5 linked regions of the Homo sapiens genome follow. The protein of the gene in region 2 purifies or fractionates together with the protein of the main gene of each other region. This does not show direct contact. Each region holds a gene or a part of one and is shown on either strand. Other genes may lie near its edges.

Region 1 (3,518 bases), on a different chromosome or scaffold from region 2:
ATATCTTAATAATATATTGGTCACCTTTTTTTCTCTTAAAATGTAATGGTATTTTCAGTAGACTAAAGCTGAAAATCAGTAAAGAAAATTAGAGATACAGGTATAAATAAAGTTTTAACTTTAATCACAACCATATACCAGTAACTCTCAGTAACCCAAGAGCATGATTTGTACTTAAAATTAGTTATGCAGCTGTTAAGTTTTAGACTGGAGAAAACACATTACATGTTCCATTGATCTCCTCCCTAAATCTTTTCAGATTTTTGGAAAAAAGTAGGTAACTTTGTAAGAAGAATGTCAGAGTCCTAATAAAACAATTCTCATATAAGAAAAGATCCTGCCATGCACAGTGGCTCCCATCTGTAATTCCAGCACTTTGGGAGGCCGAGGCAGGCGGATCACCTGAGGTCAAGAGTTCGAGACCAGCCTGCCCAACCTGGTGAAACCCCATCTCTATTAAAAATACAAAAATTAGCCAGGCATGGTGGCACGCACCTGTAATCCCAGCCGCTCAGGTGGCTGAGGCAGGAGAATCTCATTAACCCGAGAGGCAGAGGTTGCAGTGAGCCAAGATCGTGCCACTACACTCCAGCCTGGGCGACAGAGTGAGACCCTGTCTCAAAACAAAACAAAAGATCCTACTCCATTTTTTCCTCTTAGGGAGAAAACAAAAATCTGATTTTAATTAAGGTATGCTGGCTTTCTGAGTTTAAAAAACGACTAATAACATTATTTGCAATGAATTATTAGGTAGTTCTGGAAAAAAAAGTAAAGATTATACCAGCAATCTCCAAGTTGAGCTGTACTCTGTATGTTTTCTGGCAGGCCCTGGAAGTATTCCCTTAGAGATGAGGGGACAGAGATATCAGAGGAGCTGCATGTTACGGAGGTAGCAGCTGACCTCTGCCCGCCTCCTCCTGCACTGGCAGCTGGCCATCCCTACAGTTGAACAGGTGCCCTGATCTGCTCTCAGGCTAGAATGAGAGCGGGAATTTTTATTTATTTTGTTCACTGCTCGCTGACACATCTCTAATACCTAGAACAACACCTAGCACATTAGGTAGGCACTAAAATATTTAATGAACGAGTGATTTAATAAAGTGATATGAAGTCCTAGAAACTGCTAAGATCCATGAGTAATAGAAAAAATGAGCAAATAATATGATCAGATAGTTAAAGGAAAAAGAAATATAAATGGCTTTTAAACATATGAAAAGATTTCAACCTCAGAGATAATAAAAGAATTTTAACAGTTAACATGAGATAACATTTTTCACCTATTAAATTGCAAAAATATTGAAATTTATAAACATACTCTGTAGGCGAGGCTTTGGCAAAACACCCATGTACATGCCCTGCTAGTGGGAATATAAATAGTACAGACTCTTTGGAGAGAAATTTGGCATTACATATGAAAATTACAACTGTTAAAAATTAAAATTAAATGTAACTAAGAATAAATTGTTAAAATGCAAAAAAAAAATGTTAAACATTACAAAATTATCAAATTATCCTTGGTTGAGTAGCCTTCTTCTAGGAAATTTATCCCACAGATATACTTGCACACATGCAAAGTGACTTATGATAAGGTCATTCCCTGCATTAATGTTTATAAGAGCAAAAGACTAGAAACAACTAAGTGCCCATCAATGGGGGACTAGTTAATAAGTTGGGGTTCATACACACTATGCATTACTTGCAAATGCAGGAAAGAATGAGGAAGCTCTCTTTGTACTTACAAGAAAAGATCCAACATATACTACTGTGTGAAACAAGGTACAGAACAGTGTGATAAATATGCTTACTTTTGTGTATAAAAATATAAAATTATATTTGTATTTGCTTGTGTCTGCACAAAGAAATTCTGGAAAGATACAAAATGAGCTGATAAAAGTGGTTTCTTCGAGGGAGGAATGGGTCCTAGGCACATGGAGAACAGGGTACATGTGAGACTGCATTATATTAATATTTTGTAAAATTAGGAGGTTGAATGACAAAAACGACAGCCAAGGAGCTGTTATGCAAAACAGGCTTGTAGGGAGAATGCATGAATTACTTAAAGCAACATTGATTTTTAAATGAATATGGGTGTTGCAAAAACATTCAACTAACGTTAAACCAAATCCCCTAAGGACCTCCTCTGAAGTGTCACTCACAGGCCTATTGTGAGTTGTTGAAAAGATTTAAAAGTAGTAACATGATGCCTGTTTGAAAATATTTTCAAAGTCATATTTCGTACTAACGTCCCAGAATGGCCCATGTCCCTATGAGTTCAAATTGTGCTTTTTGGTTTTGGTAAATTTTATGAGATACAAATATCATAAGCCATGAATATTACAGTATGAGGTATTACAGGTATAAAGCCTGAATTAAATCTTTATATGAGTGATCTCTCTTCCCCATCAGAAAACTAAGGAAAATTTTCAAAATCAAATTCAATTAAGTTACTTAAAAGAATGCTTGCAATAAAAAAGATCTCCAATATTAACAACCAAAACCTTTCTACCATATAACTTAGGTCATTAAAAAATTAGTCTTACCTTACTTCAGCTGGTGGATTTGGGGAATAAGGATTTGCAGAACAAGCGAGAATTCTAATGACTGCTCCGGGATGATAGGTTTCTAGAACATGTACAGCTGTAGGATACACCTGTTGTTCAAAAGTAAGTTCCACATAGTCCTGGCTCTGAAAATTAGGTGGCGTCCTCTTGAATGGCAAGGAAGCACTAGGACACTGATCCCACCATGTCCCATAAGTTCGAAACACAGCTGTCTGAGTAAAGTCACCAGAACTTGGGAATACATTTGGTACACCAGCCAAATTCCACATAGTATAGGACATACTATTCTCACTTCCATAATGGGAACTGAAATCCACTACTTCTTTGGCATACTGGACTACCTCTGCATTGAGAGGGGAAGTCTGGCTGTTTGATTCTATAGCTCTATGGGTGTTCATCATTTCTCCTCTTGTAGCTGTCCTGGCTCGGCGCCGAAGGCATATATAATAAAACATGGTCAGAACTGTTAACATGGGAAAGACCGGTGACATCTAGATGTGAATTATGAAGCTTCAAAAGGTCAGGTGTCCTCAGTAAGATGCATGAACTCTTTGAAGGATGTTCTAAAAAAATGAATGGCTTGGTGAAGTAAAATAATTTAAATAAGCAGAAAAATGCATGGATAAGGTAATGAACAGGCTCTACCCTCAATGTAATTTCTCAGAATGAAACTAAAAAAACAAGTTTTAAAATACAAATGTGAAGTCTGGTATAAATAAATTTTCTAATGTATTTTTAAGAAACCTAAATATTGTTATGCATACAATATGGGAAGCAAAACTATATTATAAGGCAATTGGAAGATATACAATCCAAAAAGCCGTATTTTATACAAAATTATAACCATCACTCAAGAAATACTAAGTCTTTGAATCTGAAAATTAAAATTATTTAAATTATATGGTGAACCACTAAAATACTGCTGTAAATTCAAAATAATCTTAGACATTGCTGTAA
Region 2 (3,518 bases):
CAACCTCCGCCTCCCGGGTTCAAGTGATTCTCCTACCTCAGCCTCCCAAGTAGCTGGGACTACAGATGCTTGCTACCACGCTGGCTGATTTTTGTATTTTTAGTAGAGACGGGGTTTCACTCTGTTAGCCAGGATGGTCTCGATCTCCTGACATCGTGATCCGCCCACCTCAGCCTCCCAAAGTGCTGGGATTACAGCAGTGAGCCACCATGCCTGGCCCATGCCTGGCTAATTTTTAAATTCTGTAGAGACAGAGTCTGACTTTGTTGCCCAGGCTGGTCTTGAACTCCTGGGCTCCAGCAATCCTCCCATCTTGGCCTCCCAAAGTGCTGGGATTACAGTTTTGAACTACTGCTCCTGGTCCAACATGATTTGTGAAGTATATATAAGTTGTGGAATGGGTAAATCTAGCTGTTTAAAATACATATTCACATAGTGGTCATTTTTGCAGTGAGAACATTTAACATCCACCCTCTTAATATTTTTCAAGATCTTTAGATTTTCTAGCATGGGCTAGGTAGCCAGGTCTCTGCTGAGCTCAGACTTGCATTACCTGCAGGAGACTTTGGAGGAAATGGCAGCTGCCCCTTACTGAGTGTCTGCTGAGTGCCAGGCGGTGCTCAGGAGTCTTATTTATGAGCCCTGTAGATCTGTAGTAGCATCTTCTCATTACAGAGGAAGAAGCTGGAGGCCAGGAGGCTGAGCAAATAGCCCTGGCTCACAGTGCCCCTCAGTGACAGAGCCAGGATTGGAAGCCAGGTCCCATTCCCCGCCCATGTTCCTTGTGCTTTGCCCTCTGCCTTTCATCAGGTTCACATGTGCAGGAGGAACTTGGCTCTGTCTAATGTGTATGTGTGTTTCAGATTATTCTGACTCCACTGAAGTCAAATTTGAAGAGCTTAAAAATGTCAAACTAGAAGAGGAGGATGAGGAGGAAGAACAAGCAGCAGCTGCCTTGGATCTTTCTGTGAATCCTGCGTCTGTAGGGGGACGCCTTGTCTTCTCAGGCTCCAAAAAGAAATCATCTTCTAGCCTGGGCTCTGGCTCTTCACGGGATTCTATCTCTTCTGATTCAGAAACTAGTGAGCCTCTCTCCTGCCGAGCCCAAGGGCAAACGGGAGTTCTCACTGTGCACAGTTATGCCAAAGGGGATGGCAGGGTCACTGTGGGAGAGCCATGCACGAGGAAGAAAGGAAGCGCCGCTAGAAGTTTCAGTGAGCGGGAGCTGGCAGAGGTATGGGCTCCAGGCAGTGGTGTGGGGTGGGGAGCTGCCCTGGAGGACACCCTGTCGGGAGGGGATCTGTGTGGGGGAGGGAGGTGGATCTGTGTGATGGAGGTGCTGCAGGAGGGCAGGAGAGACCCTCAGTCAGTGCCTCTAGCCAGCAGTGGTTGTGTCAAACAAAAGCCTGGGGTGGCATTCACTCTCCCAGCTTGTTCTTTGCTGGGAGTTGCTTTTCTGTTATCCCTGTGGCTACTGATTCCAAGAATTGCATCAATGCAGCCTGAGTCACAGCAGCAGATCCTCCTCAGCCCACTTGGATCACAATGCCTTTTTTTTTTTTCTTGAGATAGAGTCTCTGCTCTGTTGCCTAGCTAGAGTGCAGTGGCATGATCTTGGCTCACTGCAACCTCTGCCTTCCAGGTTCAAGCAGTTCTCCTGCCTCAGCCTCTCGAGTAGCTGGTATTACAGGTGTGTGCCACCACACCCAGCTAATTTTTGTATTTTTAGTAGAGACAGGGTTTCACCATGTTGGCCAGGCTGGTCTGGAACTCCTGACCTCGTGATCTGCCCACCTCAGCCTCCCAAAGTGGTGGGATTACAGGCGTGAGCCACTGTGGCTGGCCTTTTGTTTTTTTTTCTTTTTTTTTTTGAGACGGGGTCTCGCTCTGTTGCCCAGGCTGGAGTGCAGTGGCACGATCTTGGCTCACTGCAAGCTCCGCCTCCTGGGTTCACACCATTCTCCTGCCTCAGCCTCCCGAGTAGCTGGGACTACAGGCGCCCACCACCACGCCCAGCTAATTTTTTGTATTTTTAGTAGAGACTGGGTTTCACCGTGTTAGCCAGGATGGTCTCGATTTCCTGACCTTGTGATCCGCCTGCCTTGGCCTCCCAAAGTACTGGGATTACAGGCGTGAACCACCGTGGCTGGCCTTTTCAACTGGGGTAGGCAGGAACTCTTCCTCTGATCCTCATTGCCTTAGCGGCACCAGGGTTAGAATGGCTGCTGTTGGAGCCCACGTGTTTGGAGGTTTGGGATCAGATGAGATGACCTTTCTTACCTTGAAATTCAAGGGTTTTTTTCTTACACCTCTTGACTGCCCTGTAGACTCCCAGTATGACATTGATAGAGCATCCTTTTGGAGACCAAGATGCATTCCCAAAGCTATAAACACGAACATGTGTGTTCAGGCTTCCTCCTTAAATACATGTTGTCACCAAAAGCTGATTCCTGCTTTTGTGCAAAATGGCTCTTGGTGGGTCTGCCACTCTGAGTGATCAGTCATGTCAGATGCCACTGGACCCCCACTACCCAAGTGACTTTCCCTGACTCCCCAGCCTTGGAGCTTATGTGGGTCAAGCTGCAGTCTTTGGTGAGGGGTGGGAGATAGAAGAAGCCAGTGCAGAAGGTCCTCTTTATTCCCTATTCCCTTACCTTTAGTTTTTAAAAATGTATCTTAAAAATCTTCACTATGGAAAATTTCTGACGTACGTACAAAATACCATCACGAGCCCCCGCGTGTACTCATCATATATATGATTAACATTTGGCACATTTGCTTTCTGTTTTCTTTGGCTGCAGTACTTGACACTCAGTCATATTCACATTTCCCTAGTGTTGCCAATAGTCCCTTTTTATGGTAGGTTTGTCTCCTTGTTGTTGATACTCATAACTTTTCTCGGTGCCTTCTCTGAATCTCAGGGTACGGTTTTGGTAGACTTCTTTTTACCTTGTGAATGTTCCTCTTTCCATCCCACTGTGGTTGCAGGCTAATGAGCTAATAACTACTGTGTTTCCTTCTCATTGCCTCTGATTGCAGTTCTCTGTGCCTTCTTATGGCAGCTTCCATAAAGGAGGGCTTTTTCAGCCTGGAAACCAGAGTCTCTTTAACTCCCAGTTGCCACCTAGCAATTCTTCCTTCGCAGAGGCCCCGGGCCATTTCATCCATCCTACTGTTGACTACTGTTCACTACAGTTCATGCTGTCCTCTTGCTGAGTCTTCCTGACATTCTTGTTTCTAGTTGCAATCACAATCACAAAAAGCAGCTAAGAAGTAGCAAGAGCTCACTGTATATTAAATACTTTGTTTATCTTTTTTGAGACAGGGTCTTGCTCTGTTGCCCAGGGTAGAGTGCAGTGGCACAGTCTTGGCTCACTGCAACTTCTGCCTTCTGGGTTCAACCCATCCTCCCCACCTCAGCCTCCCAAGTAGCTGGGACTACAGGTGCACACCACCACTCTTGGCCAATTTTTGTATTTTTCGTAGAGATGGGGTTTCAACATGTTGCCCAGACTGGT
Region 3 (3,518 bases), on a different chromosome or scaffold from region 2:
GCCCCCTGGGAGGCGGAGGTTGTGGTGAGCCAAGATCGTGCCATTGCACTCCAGCCTGGGCAACAAGAGCGAAATTCCATCTCAAGAAACAATAACAAAAAAGCAAAAATTTGCGGGGCGTGGTGGCTCACGCCTGTAATCCCAGCTACTTGGGAGGCTGAGGCAGGAGAATCGCTTGAACCTGGGAGGTGGAGGTTGCAGTGAGCCTCGATCGTGCCATCGCACTCCAGCCTGGGCGACACAGCGAGACTCTGTCTCAAAAAAAAAAAAAAAAAAAAAAGAAAGAGAAAAGGGGTTGGGTGCAGTAGCTCACGCCTATAATCCCAACACTTTGGGAGGCCGAGGCAGACGGATCACAAGGTCAGGAGATCAAGACCATCCTCGCTAACACAGTGAAACCCCGTCTCTACTAAAAACACAAAAAATTAGCCAGGCGTGGTGGCGGGCGCCTGTAGTCCCAGCTACTTGGGAGGCTGAGGCAGGAGAATGGCATGAACCTGGGAGGCGGAGTTTGCAGTGAGCCAAGATTGCGCCACTGCACTCCAGCCTGGGCGACAGAGCGAGACTTTGTCTTGGAAAAAAAAAAAAAAGGGAGGACATGTGGAAACAGACACGCACAGAGAGAAGACGGTGTGAAGAGGCACAGGGGGATGATGGCCGTCTGCAAGCCAAGGAGAGAGGCCGTGAACCAGTCCTCCCTTGCAGCCCCCGAAGGAAGCAGGCCCGCTGACACTTTGGTCATGGACTTTCCAGCCTTCAGGACGGTGAGACAATGACTTTTTGCTGTTTTCAGCCACCTGGTCTGTGGCTCTTTGTTACAGCAACTCGGGCAGAGGAATCCACCCTTACACACATGCAGACTCAAGAAGCATCCGGAATTTGCCCCATCAGTCAACACACTCCCCCCTCCTCCTCCATTATGATTCTTTTCCTTATGCTGATATAACCTAAAGGAAGACTGGGATTCAGTGGCTGCTTCATGGCTTGTTGAACCCCTGCAAGCTTCAGGCCGACCTTGAATGCACAGCCTTCTCTTACTCCACCGTAACGCCCTCCTTGCCTCTGATAAAAGCCACAGTAACTTTTTCGACTTGGAGCAGGGCAGGACCAGGCCTAGGCTGCCCCTGCAGGCAATCGGCTGAGGCACACAGAGCAAGATGCACCAAGCCATGTGGAGAGGGAGTGGGAAGGAGGCCCAGGGCCCGGAGGCCACACCTGGGGCATCTGAGAGAAGCCTCCCACCTGCCCAGCCCTCACCTTGAGGGTCTGGGCCCGAGAGATGAGGTACGGAAGGTCGAAGTTCTGGATGTTGTAACCGGTGATCACGTCGGGGTCCATGATACGGATGAAGGTGGACCAGGCCTGGGGGTGGGAGCACATTGGGTCACCCTGGTGGTTGCCCTGCCTCGGATTCCCCTACTTCCAGAATGTTCTAGAACCCCAGCCACCCCTGAAAATCCTGCAGAACCCAGAGGGGAAGTGCTCAAGCCTAATTGCACAGGGGCCCACCCAGACCCACAGACACCCACCCAGACCCACAGACATGGGCGTCGCAGCACCCAGGAGCTGATGGCTCAGGACGCGGAGGCTGGCGGGGACCCCGGGAAATGGTGTGGGGCGTGGAGCGAGAGCTACCTGCAGCAGGTCCTCCTCCTTCTCGTAGCTCTGCACCTTGGCACCCAGGATGGGGGCACAGGGCCGCAGGGTGAGCGCCAGGCGTAGGAAGGGCTCCGGCTCCCCCCAGCGCAGGCCCAGCGAGCAGATCTGGATGACAGGGTCCCGCTCAGGCTCAGGGAAGATGCCTGCGAGGCAGGAGGATGCAGGGGCCTGACTCCTGCCCCTCACTCCCAACACAGCAGGGAGGCTGCACCTGCCATCTCCCCGGGGCTGTCCCCGCTGCCTGCCGGCCCTACGTGGCTCACCCTGGCTCCTGCTCTGCTCTCACCTCCAGGCCATCTCCACACCCTCTGTGCTCACTCCATCTGGCCACATGGGCTGGGGTGCTCCTGCCCCGGCACCTTCATGCTTGCCATTCCCTCCACCGGACCTGCCTTTCCGACCCCCGACTTGGCACATCAATGAGGCGGGCAGGAGCCCGGGCCCGGGGACAGACCTTTGCGGCCGGCGCACTCGATATCGAAGCTGAGCACGCGCAAGGGCGCAATGCGCTGCCATGGCCCTTCCGGTGGGTGACTGACCACGTCAGACCACAGCACGTCCGCCTCCAGCTGGCACTGCGTAGCCTGTGGGCATGGGTGGGTCAGCGGTGGCAGCAGGGTACCAGCTCCCCACCCAGCCCTGCCCTGGGAAGCCCTGCACCTTCTCCTTCAGCCTCAGGGCGTATTTCCCAGCTGGGAGCTCCAGCCAGTTGCAGCCGACGATGTCCGTGTCCACCATGAACCTGGAGGGGGCTGGGGGTCAGTGGACAGGGGCTGCCCGAGGGTGGGGATAGAGGCCGGAGAAGTGAGGCAGAGGCCGTACCGGATCTCAAAGTCGACGTTGGCCTCGTAGGGCGCGAAGCTGGGCGTGCCCAGGCCTGCCACACGGATGCCCTGTTCCAGGAGACGGCGGGCCGGGGCCACGAGGCGCGGCAGCGCCACGGTGATGCGCAGGAACGGGGAGGGGCCGTGCCCGTGGTACCCAAACATGCCTGTGGATGGAAGAAGCTGGGACCAGCCAATGGCCTCCCGAGGGGACCCTCCAACCCGCTGATCCTGGGGGAGCACTCACTCTCTCGGGAGCACAGTTCCACAGCCAGCACGGCCGGCCCAGTCAGCTCCCTCCCCCCGCGACTGTCCCGGCTGATGGCCAAGTTCAGCTCCCGTTGCAGGTCACCCATGTGCTCGGGCCCGAAACCTGGTGTGGGAGGGATGATCAGAGGTGCAGGGGGCTCCAGTGGCTCAGGGAGGGGCTGGGTAGGGGCCACTCACCAGGGGGCGCTGGGGTGTAGAAGTAGGGAGCGAAGCCGTGGATGTGGCAGCAGACAGAGAACCCCTCATCGGTGACCCCGAAGGCGCGGAGCACAGGCACGGAGCCGCGGGATGGTGGGGGCCCCCCAGGCACAGGCTGCGCTGGGCCTGTGGGGTCACAGGGTAAGACAGCGGCCATGCCTCTCAGGGTCCTCCAAGGTGTGTCTCCACAGCCTCGAAATACCTTGGGGCCTGCAGCCTGGGGCACTCCTGCCCCTGTACCGTTCCCTGTGTCCATTTCAGCCTCCCCCCTGGTTCCCATCTCCAGCCTCATCCCCCAGGATCCATTCTCCACAGCACAACTACAGGGAGGCCCTTCTTTTTTATTACAAGATAAAAACAACTGGCCGTGCACAGTGACTCACACCTGTGATTCCAGTGCTTTGTGAGGCCAAGGCGGGAGGATCGCTAGAGCCCAGGACTTTGAGACCAGCCTGGGCAAAAGAGCGAGACCCAGTCTCAAAAAAAAGAAAAAAAAAAAAAAAAAAAAAAAATATATATATATATATATATATATACACATATACACAAATACACACACATATTATA
Region 4 (3,518 bases), on a different chromosome or scaffold from region 2:
TGCCCAGGCTGGTGTGCACTGGCACCATCTCAGTTCACTGCAACCTCTGTCTCCCGGGTACAAGCGATTCTCCTGCCTTGGACTCCTTAGTACCTGGGATTACAAGCACCATTGCATTCCAGCCTGGGCGCCACCATGTCCGGCTAATTTTTATACTTTTAGTAGAGACGGGGTTTCCACGTTGGCCAGGCTGGTTTCGAACTCCTGACCTCAAGCAATCTGCCCGCCTCGGCCTCCCAAAGTGCTGGGATTACAGGTGTGAGCCACCGCACCTGGCCCTAAAAAAAATTTATTTCGCCAGGCACAGCACCTCATGCCTGCAATCCTAGCACTTTGGGAGGCCGAGGCAGACAGATCACTTGAGGCCAGGAGTTTGAGACCAGCCTGGGTAACATAGTGAGATCCTGCCCCTGTGAAAAAAAAAATAGCTGGTTGCAGTTGCACAAGCCTGTAGTCTCCGCTACTTGGGAGGCTGAGGTGGAGGATCATTACAGCCGAGGAGTTCAAGGTTGCAGTGAGCTATGACTGTGCCATTGGACTCTAGTCTGAGTGATATAGTGAGACCCTGTCTCAAAAACTACAACAAAAAACAACGTTATAGGGTTAGGGTTCTATATTCTTTTCTTAATGTCATTTCAATTTTTTTTTTTTTTTTGAGATGGAGTTTCGCTCTTGTTGCCCAGGTTGCAGTGCAAATGGCATGATCTCAGCTCACCACAACCTTCGCCTCCGGGGTTCAAGCAATTCTCCTGCCTCAGCCTCCCAAGTAGCTGGGATTACAGGTATGTGCCACCACACCTGGCTAATTTTGTATTTTTAGTAGAGACGAAGTTTCTCCATGTTGGTCTCCATCTCCCGACCTCAGGTGATCCGCCTGCCTCGGCCTCCCAAAGTGCTGGGATTACAGGCATGAGCCACCGAGCCTGGACTCAGATTCTTCATTTATACCAACCGAAGTGTTGTGATGGTTGCACAACATTGCAAATGTACTAAATGCCACTGAACTGTATACTTCAAAATAGTTAAAATGGTAAATTTTGGGCCGGGCGCAGTGGCTCACACCTATAATCCCAGCACTTTGGGAGGCCGAGGCGGGCGGATCATGAGGCCAGGAGATCAAGACCATCCTGGCTAACACAGTGAAACCCCGTCTCTACTAAAAATACAAAAAAATTAGCTGGGCGTGGTGGAGGGCGCCTGTAGTCCCAGCTACTCGAGAGGCTGAGGCAGAAGAATGGCGTGAACCCAGAAGGTGGAGCTTGCAGTGAGCCAAGATTGCGCCACTGCACTCCAGCCTGGGCGACAGAGCAAGACTCCGTCTCACAAAAAAAAAAAAAAAAAAATTTATGGTTAATTATGTCCATTTAACCACAATAAAAAAATTTACAGGCCAGGCACAGTGGCTCACACCTATAATCCCAGCATTTTGGGAGGCCGAGGCGGGTAGATCACCTGAAGTCAGGAGTTCGAGACCAGCCTGGCCAACATGGCGAAACCCCATCTCTACTAAAAATACAAAAATTAGGCCAGGCTCGGTGGCTCATGCCTGTAATCCCAGCACTTTGGGAGGCTGAGGCGGGCGGATCACGAGGTCAGGAGATTGAGACCACCCTGGCTAACATGGTGAAACCCCTTCTCTACTAAAAATACAAAAAATCAGCTGGGCGTGGTGGTGCATGCCTGTAGTCTCAGCTACTCGGGAGGCTGAGGCAGGAGAATCACGTGAACCCAGGAGGCGGAGGTTGCAGTGAGCTGAAATCGCACCACTGCACTCCAGCCTGGGAGACAGAGCGAGACTCTGTCTCAAAAAAAAAATAAATAAATAAATACAAATACAAATACAAATACAAATACAAAAATTAGCCGGGTGTGGCGGCAGATGCCTGTAGTCCCAGATACTTGGGAGGCTGAGGCCAGGGAACCGCCTGAACCCGGGAGGCGGAGGTTGCAGTGAGCAGAGATCACACCACTATACTCCAGCCTGAGTGACAGAGAGAAACTCCATCTCAAAAAAAAAAAAAAACAAAAACCCTCATTTAAATTATTAACGTAAGAGATGCTGAAACCAGCACATTAAATGAATGACTATCTTAGACAAATGTTTGTAAGTTACTTAATAAAGATAAGATTTAAGGTGCAGGCCCCTATTAAATTGCTTGTGGAAGATATGATAAGCAAATCTACCATAAAAGTGCTTTTTATCCTGATTGAATAAAACCGAAAAAGAGATTTAGAGATCAAGGTCAAAATACATTTGGCAAAGCACTCTACCTGTCTGCTTCATCCAGAATGATGATCTTATGTCGGCCTTTGGGAAGAGTGACTTTTTGTTGAGCAAACATTTTAATTTTATTCCTCACAACGTCAATGCCCCTGAAAGAATGACAGGTTTTTACTGGCACCTTCTGAGACCAATTCAGTTGCCTTCACAAGGACTTTTAAACAATCGGTATATCAGGGACTGTGAGGCCCAATTTCCATTTTTGAGTTTTTTTGGGGGGCAATTGTAACTATTTATAAGGATTGAGATTTTATGGCATTTGTTCTTTCTTGGAGGTCTTTCAAAGAACAAAGAAAATATACACTTTTTTTTTTTTTTTCTTCAGACAGGGTCTCGCTGTGTCATCCAGGCTGGAGTGCAGTGGCCCTCTTGGCTCACTGCAAGCTCTGCCTCCCAGGTTCAGTGAGCCGGGATCACGCCACTGCACCCCAGCCTGGCGATAATTCGTCTCAAAAAAAAAAAAAAGCCTCATCCTTCAGTTTTTTAACTGCATTGCTTGAGATACCATATTATCTTTCAAAAGATGTAATAGAAGTGCAGATATACCACCTTTGTTATCTTGTAAGCTTTCACTAACCACAGCCAAGAATTCAAAATTTTTCATTCTCTACCCACAACAGGAAAGAGAAAAAAATTGAGAGGAGGACTCTTCCTAATTATTAGGTGAATCAGAAAATAACTGCAATGTAGGCCAAGCATGGTGGCTCACACCTGTAATCCCAACACTTTAGGAGGCCAAGGTGGGCGGACCACTCCAGGCCAGTTTAAGATCAACCTGGCCAACACGGCGAAAATCCATCTTTACTAAAAATACAAAAATTACCTGGGCGTGCCCGCGCACGCCTGTAGTCCCGGCTACTTGGGAGGCTGAGGCACGAGAATCGCTTGAACCCAGAAGGCAGAGGTTATGGTGAGTCGAGATCGTGCCACTGCACTCCAGCCTGGGTGACAGAGCAAGACTCTGTCTCAAAAAAAAAGAAAGAAAGAAAAGAACAGAACAGAACAGTACAGAACTGCAGAGACACCAATAGCAACATTCTAAATGCTACTGATGGTGAAATTGATCAATAAGCAAAATCTCAGACTATGAATCTTCAGATGCCAATATCCTCCAGACATTTTCCCTAACTGAAGAATCAAGGAGTGAACAATATGCAGCTGTCCCTTGGTGTTCCTGGGGACTGGTGCTAGGCCCTTCCTCAGACACCAAAATTCACTTTTGCTCAAGTCCCTTATA
Region 5 (3,518 bases), on a different chromosome or scaffold from region 2:
CACCTCAGCCCTATCCAAAGATAAATGCCAGTTAAACTTTTTATTTTCTTAAACCTATGAGCCTTTATTTTTGTGTTGCATTTTTCTGTACTAGTATGACCAAGGTCACCCACAGTCAGGTTTCTGAAGTAGCCTCCATCACTTTGGAACTAAAACTTAGTTTAGCTACTGTTTTATTAGCACTGATATTAATTAATTCAGAAATGGGAATTGAATGTTAGAATTTGATTCAGGTTCTCATATTTGCTTGTTTTTTAATGTACATTATCAAAATTGGTATAGGGCATATTCATTTAGAGGACTTTAACTTCTGCTGAGGTATTGAATGTTGGCCAGTAATAAACTACTTAGGAATGGATTTTCAGTATATGGATGTACTTGTTTTATGGTGTCCATATTAATAATAGGGATAATGATAATACCTGCATGAAGTATTTTATGTTTTTACATCACGAATGTTAGAGTAGTGATTTTAAGAGGGCTGTTTTATAATCTCAAATTTTATATAACATGAAAAGTGGTATTTTTCAATATTCATTGATTTAAAAATATGAAATTCTGTAAATTCAAAAACACATAAAAATAGAATTTTCATATTTGTTAACTCAGGATATAGTATTTGTTTAAGAAATTACTATGCTTGGGATTCATTTGGATTCGTGAACATATTACAATAACTGTCTTTCCCAACAGATAGGACCACTAACTGAAATGTTTGTTAGAACTAAGTCCTGCAATTGGAAAAGAGAGAATCATCAAAATTTTAAATTAGTTAATTAGTTGCTGGCTGGTGAAGTTATCTTTCCATTTGATATTAGGGAGATGAAGATGAAGAAATTGATGGAGATACCAATAAATACAAGAAAGGACGTAAGAAAGCAGCTTATGCTGGAGGCTTGGTTTTGGACCCCAAAGTTGGTAAGGCTGGGCAGTGAATTGGTTTTCTCCCAGTATTAAGGAATTTCTTAATGTGGATCTAGGCTTGAGAAACTAGAAGACTGAATTATATCTTATAGATCAGCGAATAGGTCTCATGACTTTTATCTTTCGTTCACGTGAAAATCTTGGTTGCCAGTCACCTGACATAGACTTAATGTGAATTTTGTTATGCTGTGTTCCAATAAAATATTATTTATAGACATTGAAATTTAAATTTCATATAGTTTTCATATGTCATGAAATATTGTTTTTGATTTTTTTCCAGCCATTTAAAAATGTAAAAACCATACTTAAGCTCATGGGTGGTACAAAAATAAGTAGGTTGGATTTGGTCTGTAGCCGTAGTTTGTCTAATACATAGATAGCTGTCCAGTACATAGATAGCTGTTTGTCCTGACCAGTTCAGTTGACAGCAAAGTTGAAGGACGTGCAGACAATAACCACCAAATTTAACTTTAATAGGAGAATATCTTTTTCCCTATTGTCATGAATGGCAAAGATGTTTTGTGGTACACAGAGCTAGAAATAATTTTTTTTTCTTTTTTTCTTTTTTTTTTTTGGAGACAGAGTTTTACTCTGTTGCCCGGGCTGGAGTGCAGTGGTGCGATCTCTACTCACTGCAACCTTCACCTCTTGGGTTCAAGCGATTCTCCTGCCTTAGCCTCCTGAGTAGCTAGGACTACAGGTGTGTGCCAGCATACCCAGCTAATTTTTTTGTATATATAAAAAAACATTTCAACCCTTCCCAAGTGTACAGTTCAGCAGTAGTGTTAAGAATATTCACATTGCTGTGAAGGAATTAATGTGAATTTTATCTAATAAGTTAGTTCTGAGTAGGAAACATTTTTGACAAAAGTGATTTTGTTATTAGTTATAATGAAATGGAGCAGTAGTACTTGGTGTTATGTAGGTCTGGGTTTGAATTCAGTGTGATCTTGGGCTGCCTGTTTAACCTCTGTAAGCCTCAGTTTCTTCTGTAAAATAGAGTTAAGAGTAATATCTACCACACAGGGATTTAAGGATAAATTAGTATAGTGCTGGACACAGAATAAACTATCCTATATGTTTGCAATTATTATTGTCTTAATAGTGGACATTTATTTTTATTCAGTTTCTTCTCAAGGTGAAGATAACTCTTTGTAAATGTCCTACAGAAATATAGTAGCTTTCTGTTCTTCCTTTGCAAGTAAAAAGGGTGGGTCGTTCCACTACTGACATTTATATATATGTGTCTCTTGTTTGATTTTAGCTCAGTTTTTGTACAGGTAAATGTGCCGTCCATTTTATTTTTTGAAGCTGTTGTAAAAGAATAAATTACTCTACCAGGCGCGGTGGCTCACGCCTGTAATTTCAGCACTTTGGGAGGCTGAGGCAGGCAGATCACGAGGTCAGGAGATCGAGACCGTCCTGGCCAACATGGTGAAGCCCCATCTCTACTAAAATATAAAAAATTAGCCGAGCACGGTGTTGCGCGCCTGTAGTCCCAGCTATTCGGGAGGCTGAGGCAAGGGGACTCACTTGAACCCGGGAGGCAGAGGTTGCGGTGAGCTGAGATTGCGCCATGGCACTCCATCCTGGAGACAGAGTGAGACTCTGACTCAAAAAAAAAAATAAAAATAAAAATAAACCACTCACTTGGTTTTATTTGGGGTGGGGGGTGGGAGAGTAGGTAGGAGGATTCTTCAAAGAATTCTTGCTTTGAAGGAGAGTTGAACATTTTTTTTTTTTTAATGGATGTGACACGTCTCAGATAGCTGATTGGGAAGGTATTTGCTCATAATAATGGTGTGCTTTGGGGACAGCTGGGGAAAGGACTGGTTGTAGCTGGTTCTAAAGAGAGACAGGATCTTTTTCTCCCTCTTCTTTTGTGATCTGGCTTTTCACTAATCCGCATCATTTTATGAAATGGTAGTTGATTCTTTTTTTCCCTTTTTGTCTGTTTCACAGCTCTGGGTAGTGTATATGGATAGTATATAGTTTCTAATATACTTACAGTGCTTTTAATAATGATGTTTTGACAATTCTGCTTTTCTTTAGACTTTTTATGACGTGGCTTTTTAATTTCAGGTTTTTATGATAAGTTCATTTTGCTTCTGGACTTCAACAGTCTATATCCTTCCATCATTCAGGAATTTAACATTTGTTTTACAACAGTACAAAGAGTTGCTTCAGAGGCACAGAAAGTTACAGAGGTTTGTATTTAACCTGGGACTCTTGAAATTGAGTTTAAAAAAATTGCTTAAAGAAGGAAGATCTGTGTCTTTTTAAAATAGTTTTATTGTGGTATTATTCATATACCATATACTTCACCTGTTTGAAGTGTGTAGTTCAGTGGCTTTTAGTGTATTCCCAGAGTTTGCAACCATCATCACAATGAGTTTTAGGATATTTTCATTATTCCCCAAAGAAACCTTTTAGCTGTCACCTCCCTCAATCCCCATCCCTTCCACCTCTAGGCAACTACTAATCTTTTTGCTTTTATAGATTTGTGTATTCTGGACGTCTCATATAAATAGAATCATACATTATATGGCCTTTCGGTATCTGGCTTATTTCACTTATAATGTTTTCAAGGTTCA

Evidence for each region.
Region 1: the proteins of KDM4A (region 2) and FBXL4 purify together in Homo sapiens (affinity purification with western blotting; one study listed by BioGRID). This does not show direct contact.
Region 3: the proteins of KDM4A (region 2) and POLD1 purify together in Homo sapiens (pull-down; one study listed by IntAct). This does not show direct contact.
Region 4: the proteins of KDM4A (region 2) and RFC2 purify together in Homo sapiens (pull-down; one study listed by IntAct). This does not show direct contact.
Region 5: the proteins of KDM4A (region 2) and POLA1 purify together in Homo sapiens (pull-down; one study listed by IntAct). This does not show direct contact.

The regions. Positions count from the first base shown.
Region 1 is NC_000006.12:98,923,937-98,927,454, forward strand, and holds part of FBXL4 (F-box/LRR-repeat protein 4), read right to left. Parts: intron 3,125-3,518; 5' UTR 3,053-3,124; coding exon 2,541-3,052; intron 1-2,540. UniProt on the Homo sapiens protein: Substrate-recognition component of the mitochondria-localized SCF-FBXL4 ubiquitin E3 ligase complex that plays a role in the restriction of mitophagy by controlling the degradation of BNIP3 and NIX mitophagy receptors.
Region 2 is NC_000001.11:43,670,642-43,674,159, forward strand, and holds part of KDM4A (lysine-specific demethylase 4A), read left to right. Parts: intron 1-863; coding exon 864-1,234; intron 1,235-3,518. UniProt on the Homo sapiens protein: Histone demethylase that specifically demethylates 'Lys-9' and 'Lys-36' residues of histone H3, thereby playing a central role in histone code. Does not demethylate histone H3 'Lys-4', H3 'Lys-27' nor H4 'Lys-20'.
Region 3 is NC_000019.10:50,401,337-50,404,854, reverse strand, and holds part of POLD1 (DNA polymerase delta catalytic subunit), read right to left. Parts: intron 3,078-3,518; coding exon 2,931-3,077; intron 2,857-2,930; coding exon 2,731-2,856; intron 2,651-2,730; coding exon 2,482-2,650; intron 2,402-2,481; coding exon 2,320-2,401; intron 2,244-2,319; coding exon 2,114-2,243; intron 1,803-2,113; coding exon 1,636-1,802; intron 1,363-1,635; coding exon 1,258-1,362; intron 1-1,257. UniProt on the Homo sapiens protein: As the catalytic component of the trimeric (Pol-delta3 complex) and tetrameric DNA polymerase delta complexes (Pol-delta4 complex), plays a crucial role in high fidelity genome replication, including in lagging strand synthesis, and repair.
Region 4 is NC_000007.14:74,244,391-74,247,908, forward strand, and holds part of RFC2 (replication factor C subunit 2), read right to left. Parts: intron 2,374-3,518; coding exon 2,272-2,373; intron 1-2,271.
Region 5 is NC_000023.11:24,742,412-24,745,929, forward strand, and holds part of POLA1 (DNA polymerase alpha catalytic subunit), read left to right. Parts: intron 1-818; coding exon 819-918; intron 919-2,029; exon of another isoform or gene 2,030-2,159; intron 2,160-2,188; exon of another isoform or gene 2,189-2,482; intron 2,483-3,006; coding exon 3,007-3,131; intron 3,132-3,518. UniProt on the Homo sapiens protein: Catalytic subunit of the DNA polymerase alpha complex (also known as the alpha DNA polymerase-primase complex) which plays an essential role in the initiation of DNA synthesis.